2 linked regions of the Homo sapiens genome follow. The protein of the gene in region 2 interacts with the protein of the main gene of each other region in a biochemical or structural test. Each region holds a gene or a part of one and is shown on either strand. Other genes may lie near its edges.

Region 1 (4,279 bases), on a different chromosome or scaffold from region 2:
GAATTCAATCAAAGCCTCTTTGGTATTTCCCAAACCAGATTTTTGATAAATGAACATTATCTACTCTGAACGCTTTTTCATCGAAATTCCCAAATAAAAGCAGAGCACTCATTTTTGCTAAATAGAAATACAACTGATCTATGTAAAATTTTTTAAGAAATGGTTTCTTTTGGGTTGAGCCTTTTTTAAGAAAAGGGATCTCCCCTTTGCAAACAGGCCTTGATAAGATGTAATGAACTTTGAGGACACAGGGCCAGCAACTAGAACCTTGATGGAACAGAGATTGCTTTTCAGGAGTGACAGTTGTTAAGCTAAATCCTTCCACAAGCTTGCAAGCTAAGACTCCCAAATAAAGGCTTTGGAATTTTTTAGCTAGAAGGCTGTTCAAACAGCGGAGACCACATACAATGAGAATGTTCCTGAACTGAGAAACTTCAGGGAACTTTCAAAGGCTCATATACTTCACAGTTTCTTCTCACCTGTCCCAGCATCAGAATAATTGATAGGATTCAGATAAAAGGGGGCGAGGAAAGAAGCTGAGGTGCTACAAGCCCGTCATCATTTTCACAGTTGAAGCTTAAGACAGAGTTCTCTGTTGAATGCTAGCTATGGGCATGTGTGGGAGTGAGACTCCAGGGGGAGTTTCAGAAGCGGGAATCCCGCCTTCCATCAGAAGGGTGTTGGCTCCCACCTTCCATCAGAAGGGTGTTGGCTCCCACCTTCCATCAGAAGGGTGTTGGCTCCCACCTTCCATCAGAAGGGTGTTGGCTCCCACCTTCCATCAGAAGGGTGTTGGCTCCCACCTTCCATCAGAAGATGCTGGCCCAGGGAAACCTGAAAGGCTTCTTTTTCCAGGAAAGCATTCTGGTCCCAGGATGCAGACTGCTCTCGGGCAACAGAGCAGGGACCCTCTTTTGTGTCGAATCCGGGCAATGGGCCTCGGTTTTGGCTTTTCCTGAGGATCTGGGATTCTGTGGGAGAAAGGAGGTCCTCTCTGGCACCAGGCCGACTTTTATGAGACACAGCCTGGGTACGGATGGCAACATCATCAATTTGCAAGGATCGCGCACACAGCCCCTCAGTAAAAGATCAGGGAAAGGGGAGGGGATGGGCATCCTCAATTGTCCAGGGGCCTCTCGAGACGCTGACCTGCTCTGGGGACGGTGGTGCCTGCCTATTGCTCAATTTCACACTTCAATAAATAAATACATAAATAGGTATAAATAAACAGATAAATACAGCCATCATCTCATGAGAGCAATAACTAAAAAACAGCCTACGGTCACGTTTTAGTCTCACGTCAAGGTTAAAAACTGCTGGTACTAAGTTATCCTGTTTGTGATTCTCTCTGTAAACTAGTTATTTATAAACGCCAGATCCCAGTCCTGAGGAGTTTTGGGTGATCTGGCCCTGCCTATTTCACAGGCTTTCTCTTTCACCCTTCCTCCGGGCTCCTGGTTTAAAAGCCACCAGCCTGTAACTGCACATTCTTGCGTCACAGATTCAGAAATGCTTTTGCTTGAGGCAAGGATTGGTTTCTTAAGATCTTACGACTCCTCCCTGAATGCTGGGCCACCTGCACCTTCCCTAGCCAAAAAGAAAGAAAAGGTAAAATAAAAAACAAAACAAAATTCGAGCAAAACAAAATCAAATTTAATGGTCTTAAATGCAAAAGTAAAAACAAACAAAAAACACAAAAAAGCAAAAGAAAATTAACAGAACAGAACAACCCAAAATGTCAAGGCAGTTATGAAGAGAACTTTGAGGGTTAATCTTTAAAACTACAAATCAAAGGTTTTGGTTAATAGATAACTGGCAAGAAGTAAGTACTTTTCTGCTGAGTGTTCATACAAAAGCAAAATTCCAAAACAAAATCCGACTAAAATAGAAAAAGGTCTAAGCGCTCACGAGAAGGGATGCGAGAAATACAATGCTCAAATGTTTCTGTGTTATTAAAATACAGAGCCATTTTACGCCTCCAAGCTATGTTAAATGCTCTGGAAAACGGGAGAAATTATCGTGAACAACAGTATCCAATGTGTGGGGCGCTGTGCATGCAATGTGTGGACAGAAACTCGGGATGTCAGAGTAGCAACACATCTTCAGGCGTGCCTGGAGCTTAGATCTGACTCTGGAATATACTGGAGTTTCCCTGAAACTCTTTGGTCCATTCCCATTGGTGCCTGGGCTTACGAAACACGTTTGTGTCCTTCTCTGGAGGGCCCGCCCAGCATGCAGCCCGTGGCCCCCGGCCCCAGTGGTGGCCCACGCTGGACGGGCCCGCCGCCATTCCCAGGACCACTCGGCAGAGCCCGGGACTGAGTGAGCAGGAGGTGGCAACGGGACCTGCCTGGAAAAGGAACTTCCTGTCAACCAAAGCATACATCGCTTACAATGTTGAAGCGGTTGAGAAAACGCACACTCAGCATCTGTCTAACATCTTTAGATTAAAAACTAAAACTAAAAGGTGATTTTTTTGCTACCCAGTCTGTGGAGACATTGAATGAAACGCGTGTTAGACAGTCTTAGAGGTTAAAGCATGCTTCAGGTTCACCACCATCCAGAGGGACTGGTTAGTCAATGCAGTTCTACTTAGATTTCTGTTTAATATATATCTTAAAGGAAATAACTTACGAAACTTAAGATTGGTCTAACATTGTGGGATTTCAAACATTTGAACATGTCGGTTGCATCCCAGAGTATAAAAACCTTCTCACTTCTCATTCAGACAAAGACAAACACTTGTGAAAATTGGCGCAAAATGAGTTGTACACTAACAAGAAAAGTTTCAACTCCTTCACTCTTAATTATCTATTCCGTACAAAAAAAAGCATGAGCGAGTTATTTGTGGGACTTGTTGGTTTTGAAGGAAACCTGTAAGATTTTGTCCCCCAGGCGGTAGCCGTTCAGGCTGGCTATGGCCATCGCGGCTTCTTCATAGTTTGTCATGGTCACAAAGCCAAACCCTTTGCACTTGTTGGTGTTGAAGTCGCGGATCACTTTCACATTGGTGACGGCACCAAACGGCCCAAACATCTGCCAGAGGATCCCCTCGTCGGCATCCTGCCCCAGGTTGTAGATGAAAATGCACCAGCCGGAGGAGGCGTTTCCTGGCACGTTGACGCCAGAGAGCCCGCTCATGTGATCGACGCCCATGGGGGAGAACCTGGCAGACAGAGAGCAAGCGTCAGGCCACGGTCAGCGCAGGCGGCCTGGGGATGGGGCAAGGCCTGGACGCATGCTGACCATGGCCGCTGGGCCCCATCCCGCTCTGCGCAGCCACGAGGTGCTCACGGTTGAGACACCTGCATGGGTCAAAACCCTGGGAGGAATTAAATACAGTAGTGGAGGGGCGGGACCCTGTTCTGTAGGGAGCTGACTCTGAGGGGCTGGTTGGTGCCCTCCACTCCTCCCACTGTGTATGTCGGGGTTTCTGTTTAGGGGTTCCTGCGGTTCCCCACATTTTAGATGATGGGCGCTTCTCCTGGTCCTCCGTTGAAGGTAGAAATGCTCTGCAGGCCTCTGACAGCCTCAGTTCTCCCTGGAGGAAACTCTCCTCGTACTGTGGGGTACGTGCAGGGGCTGAACTCCTTTTTCCAAATTTTGCACCTTCCCCTTATCATGACCCGCCCCCAAGCGTTGACAGCCCAGTGGTCTCTGGTTAGAGCACGCCTTTGCCAGGGCCACTTGTAGGGCACAAGAATTCCTTCCCAAGCACCAGGCAACCAACCCTCTGTGGCTAGAGCTCAACATCCCCTGAGGGTCAGGGGCCAAACCACTGAGGACTGAGAACTCAAGGGACAGGGAAGGGCCCTGGGACACCAGCAACGGCAGGCTCACCAAACTTGACCACACACGTGGGGCTCTTTCCACAGTGATACTTTTATTTACATAAAAAATAAGCCTTTCTGGGCCAGGCATGGTGGCTCAAGCACGGAATCCCAGGACTTTGAGAGGCCAAGGTGGGAGGATCACTTGAGGCCAGGAGTTTGAGACCAGCCTGGGCAACACAGAGAGACCCCATCTCTAGGAAAAAAACAAAAACCTCAGAAAACAAAAACTAAACTAAACTAAAATAAAATAAAGCCTTCTGAAAATGTACAGATGCTGTAATAAGGATTAAGGTATATGACAAAACAGTTCCTAAAGCTATGTTTCCCTCTGGAACTTTCTCACATTAAAAAAGTAAAGGTCTGAGGGTCAGTTTGGGAATATCTGAGTAGCATACATTTGTGAAGCCGGCATCTGTGAAGCTGCGTGATGCATGCAGAGAAGCATT
Region 2 (5,058 bases):
AAATACCGGTATCTCTTTTACTATCAGCACAATCAAGCTATAGAACATATCCATTCTAAAAAGTTTATTCATAATTTGTTAATAATTTAATTTACCCATCAATTATTGTATAACTATTTAGAATTTTACCTTTGGATTATAAAATATGTTTTATATAAAGTGTTTTATGGGCAACTGAGGTAGAGAATTGGGATAAATTTTTCCTTTGTAAAAATTAGTATTTAAAAAATTATCAAGAAATACAGGTGATTTTATAAAAATTGGAAAAAACAGAAAAGTAGAAATAATAAAAATAAAATAACCAGAGCCTAACCACAGACAAGCTACTGTTGACATGTCGGTGTATAAGGAATTATTTTCTTTCTTAAAAATCTCGAGTATTTTAGATGTATATTAAAGCATGTATGTAAAGTGTGTCTAAAGTACAGTACAGTGAATAAGCCACCGAGTTTAGGAAAGGAATGTTACCAATACTGTCAAAGCCCAAGGTGTTCCGTGTTCAGTCCTTTCTTCTTGTCCCTGCTGGAGGTAATCACTGTCTTGAATATTTTAAATCACTTTCTTGCTTTTTTTTTGTTTTTTTTGTTTTTTTAAAATATAGTTTGTTTTTAAGGAAGGATAACCAACCTACCAAAAGATAACAGAAATTATAAGCAAATGATTTTATGAATTTTAACAAATGAACATGCCTTTGTAACCACTACCCAGATCAAGAAACACAACATTCATAGCACCTTCATAGCTTCCTGTGTGCCCCCTCCAAATTAATACACTTCCCCAAAGGTAACCAGTATGCTGACTTTTGGAAGTTTTTAATGAATGGAATCATATAGTATATGCTCTTTTGTGTTTTGTTTTGTATGTTTTAAGGCCATGTCTTTCAGCGGTCACATACTTAAAATTATTACATTTTCCTGTATGATTGACCCATTTATTATTATATAATGTGTCTTTTTATCTTTAGTAATGTTTCCTGCCCTAGGCTCTACTGTATCTATATCAGCTTTCTTTCGATGAGTTTTTGCATGTATATCCTTTTCCATTTAGACATTTTTGTATACTTACATTTAAGTCATGTGTCTTGTAAAACAGCATATAGTTGAATTTTAATTTTTCAATCCAGTTTGATAAAACTGTCTTTTAATTGGAGTATATAGTTCGTTTTTTATTAAGGTAGTTAGGATATGTTCGTGTTTCAATCTACAGTTTTGGTAGTTTCTATTGCCTTAGTATTTGTCTTTTTTCCTCTCCTTTCTTGTCTTCTTTGGATTAATCTGTTGCTTTCCTATTTGCTTTTATTCTCTATAGGCTTGTTAGTTATACATTTTTCAATTATTTTCTTAGTGGTTATCCTAGAAATTATAACATACATCATTGGCTTACTAGAATAATATGTTTATCACTTCTTGGACAATATTAGGACCTTAAACACTAAGAGTCTTTATATGCTATTGTTGTTATATATTTACCGTTTCTATTGCCCTTCTTTCCTGTAGGTCTCCAGCATTATCTTTGGAGTTACTTTTCTTCTGCTTAAAGAATTGTCTTTAGTGTTTCTTTTAGTGAGGTCCTGCTGATGATACATTCTCTCAGTTTTTTTTGTCTCTGAAAAATGTCTTTTTTTTGCCTCCATTTTTGAATATTTTTGCTGGGTGTAGAATTCTAAGTTTACAGGTATTGGTTCCCCTGACCTCCCAACACTTTAAAGATATTCTGATTCCATGGTTTCTGTTTAAAAATATCATTTCTCAGGATTATTATTGCTTCTTTGAAGTTAAAATGTCTTTTATCCTCCTCTCGCTGTTTTTTAAGTCATTGGTTGTTAGTATTTTTTCCGTGTGTCCAGGTTTGATTGAGTGTAATATTTATCTGGCTTGGGGTTTGTAGCATTTGTTGAATCTGTGGCTTGATGTCTTCTGTCAATTTTGAAATATTTTTGGCCAGTTTCTCTTCAGATAATGTTTCTGTACCGTTTTCCCACCTCTTCTGAGACTCCATCCCATAGATCTTTTTACTACATCCCATGTCTCTTTTTTTTTTTCCTGTATTTCTCCTACTTTGATTTTCTTTATGCTTAAATTGGATACTTTCCACAGATTAACTTCCAGGTCTCTCTTCTGCTGCATTGAATCTGCTTTTAAGCCTACCAAGTTATCTATTTATTTAAGTTATAAAATTTATATTTTATCTTCATTCTTGTTATTTTCTAGTTGTCAGGTGAAATTCTTTACCTTTTTTTTCTTTGAATGTATTGATCACAGATGATTTAAAGGACTGTGCCTAATAACTCCAATATCTTGATTATCTATGGGTAAATTTTGTTTTCTGTTTTTTCTCCCTTGGTGTTTGGTTCTGCCTTTTGACATGCTTGATTTTTTTTTTTAGTTGATTGTTGGACATAATATGTAAAAATTTATTAAGCTCTCGATGCTATTTTTTTTTCAGAGAGAATTTAATTTTCTTTCAGAAGGCAGTTAATGTAGGGATGGATAACCTTAATCCAATTTAGCATTGATATGATTAGAGACTAATTTTTGTTTTTTTTTTTTTTGTATGTCCTGTTCTATTTTTTTTTTTTCCTCCCTTTATTCTTATGCTCCTAGGACATAGTCCCTTGGAGATCTTGACTTAAAGCTAGGGTTGTTTACCAGGCCCATCTCTTTCGTGGTGGAATCTGGACTCCAAATTTTGGCCCCCTAGCATAGGAGTACTTTCAGAGGGTTTACTTAGTTTCTTAGGCTCTTACCTGTTGCTCTCTGTTTAGTTTCTTAGCTTGTCACAGCACAGTTTAGGGTCTAAAAATCTCCCAAGGAAGAAAGAAGTAGAGACTATTGACTTTGCCTCAGTATATTTGCTTTCTCTCTGAGATCTTTGCCCTTCAAGCACTCAGTTGCTCTTTACTACTTTTAAACAGCTTGTTTGTTTTCTTTAAATTGAGTTTTTCTAGTTCTCAGTAGGAGTTTTAGTCCTATAGAAGCTATTTCGTCATTGTGGAAGTAGAAGTTACAATATATGTTTCATTTTGCTTATTTTAAAAATCATATATATGGCCTTTTTTTCTTTTTGTTTTTTTACTGAGCTCTGTTTCTAAGATTCATCCTATTTGATTAACTCTAATTCATTTTCACTTTTGTAGTGTTATTTTGTATATCATATCTACACATAGCTTCTAATTACCACACACAACCAAGAAAATCATACCCTCTTTTATTGGTTGATTTATTGACATTCAAGTTATTGTTACTGCAAAGTACACATCTCATGCTACATGGTAAATATTAAACTTCATGAGATCATGGTATTTTCATATTTTAAATTTCTATACCTGGGAGTGCCTTATATCAGGGTCCCCAGTGCTTGGGGTGCGGATTCTGGTGCATGGCCTGTTAGGAACTGAGCTGCGCCCAGTGCAGGGTGAGTGGTGGGTGATCGACCATTACTGTCTGAGCTCTGCCTCCTGTCACATCAGTAGTAGCATTAGATTCTCATAGGAGCACAAACCCTATTGTGAACTGTGCATTCAAGGGATCTAGGTTGTGTACTCCTTATGAGAATCTAATACCTGATTATCTGAGGTGGAACAGTTTCATCCCGAAACCATCCCCCAACCTCGGTCCATGGAAAAATTGTCTTCCATGAAACCAGTCCCTGGTGCCAGAAAGGTTGGTGACCGCTGCCGTATATACAGTAGGTGCACAGTAATGTGTAGGCAGTATATCTTTGGCAGTGTTTTCAGTATTATGATAACCCTGAATATACTAGAAAAATTAGTCATCGCCATTTACCATTTAAGTATAATGGATTCTTTTTACTTTAAAAAATATTTTAAAGCCCTTTTGTGAATAATGTGCAGACGAAAGAATAAAGGATAGTGAAAATTAACTTCACTGGAAATTTTACTAAGAATTTGAACACTGCAAACCCAAATTTTAATTCCATGTATTCCAAGTTGAAGATAATGTGTGCTCAAATATGTCAGTGTCCTCTGTAACTGCTTTTGACCCTTGAACAATGTTGGGGGTTAAGGGCACCAAGTGCCAGCTCAGTTGAAAATCTGAGTATAACTTTCAACTCCCCACAACTTAACTACTAATAGCCTGCTACTGACTGGAAGTCTTATCAATAACACAAATAGCCAATTAATACATATTTTGTATGTTATATGTATTATATACTATATTCTTAGGATAAACTAGAGAAAAATATTAGGACAATCATAAGGAGAAAATATGTTAACTGTTCATTAAGTGGAAATGGATCATCATAAAGGTCTTCATCCTTCTTCATGTTGAGTAGGCTGAAAAGAGGGAGGAAGAAGAGAGATTGGCTTTGCTATCTCAGGGGTGGCAGAGGTAGAAGAAAATCTGCTTATAAGTAGACCTGTGTACTTCAAATTTGTGTTGTTCAAGGGGTCAACTGTATTTACTTGTCAGTTGTCATGCTTGAATCTGGCACATGTGCATCGTGTAAATAACTGATACTAGATTTTAGATACATTTCTAATAGGTTCTAGCTTGTAATTACTTCTGGTTCTTCTTGTATTTGTATCATCAAAATGCAATACTAATTCCAGATCTCAAATACACCACTGATAAGTCTTGGCTTATCATTACTTCTGTACACATATTACCAAATTCAAATACATTTGAGAACTTTGAGAGTCGTAATTTGGTTGAAGAAAAGACGACCTTTCTTCATAATTGCATGCTCTGTAATTGCAAAACATTTTAATGAATTTTTTTCATTTTTACATCATCTGTTTCCTTTTAAGTACTTTAACATATGTACCTGCCTTCAACGTTTGTCCACTTATGAACCATATTAAGTAAATTTTGGTGTACAAACGTCATAAAAGATGGAAGAATATTATCACACATTCTTTAAGGATGTCCAGGTTTTTGTCATGAAATAATGTAATTTGAAGTCCTTCCTAATAAATGACTAAGTGAGGATACCATATTTTCTTTTTTTTTTTAATTAATTTTTTTTTGAGATGGAGTCCCACTCTGTCACCCAGGCTGGAGTGCAGTGGCGTGATCTCGGCTCACTGCAACCTCT

Evidence for each region. The genes of interacting proteins can lie anywhere in the genome.
Region 1: the proteins of RCHY1 (region 2) and ELAVL1 form a complex in vitro, tested with the Homo sapiens proteins (one study listed by BioGRID).

The regions. Positions count from the first base shown.
Region 1 is NC_000019.10:7,960,642-7,964,920, forward strand, and holds part of ELAVL1 (ELAV-like protein 1), read right to left. Parts: intron 3,167-4,279; coding exon 2,842-3,166; 3' UTR 1-2,841. UniProt on the Homo sapiens protein: RNA-binding protein that binds to the 3'-UTR region of mRNAs and increases their stability.
Region 2 is NC_000004.12:75,503,624-75,508,681, reverse strand, and holds part of RCHY1 (RING finger and CHY zinc finger domain-containing protein 1), read left to right. Parts: intron 1-5,058. UniProt on the Homo sapiens protein: E3 ubiquitin-protein ligase that mediates ubiquitination of target proteins, including p53/TP53, TP73, HDAC1 and CDKN1B. Mediates ubiquitination and degradation of p53/TP53; preferentially acts on tetrameric p53/TP53.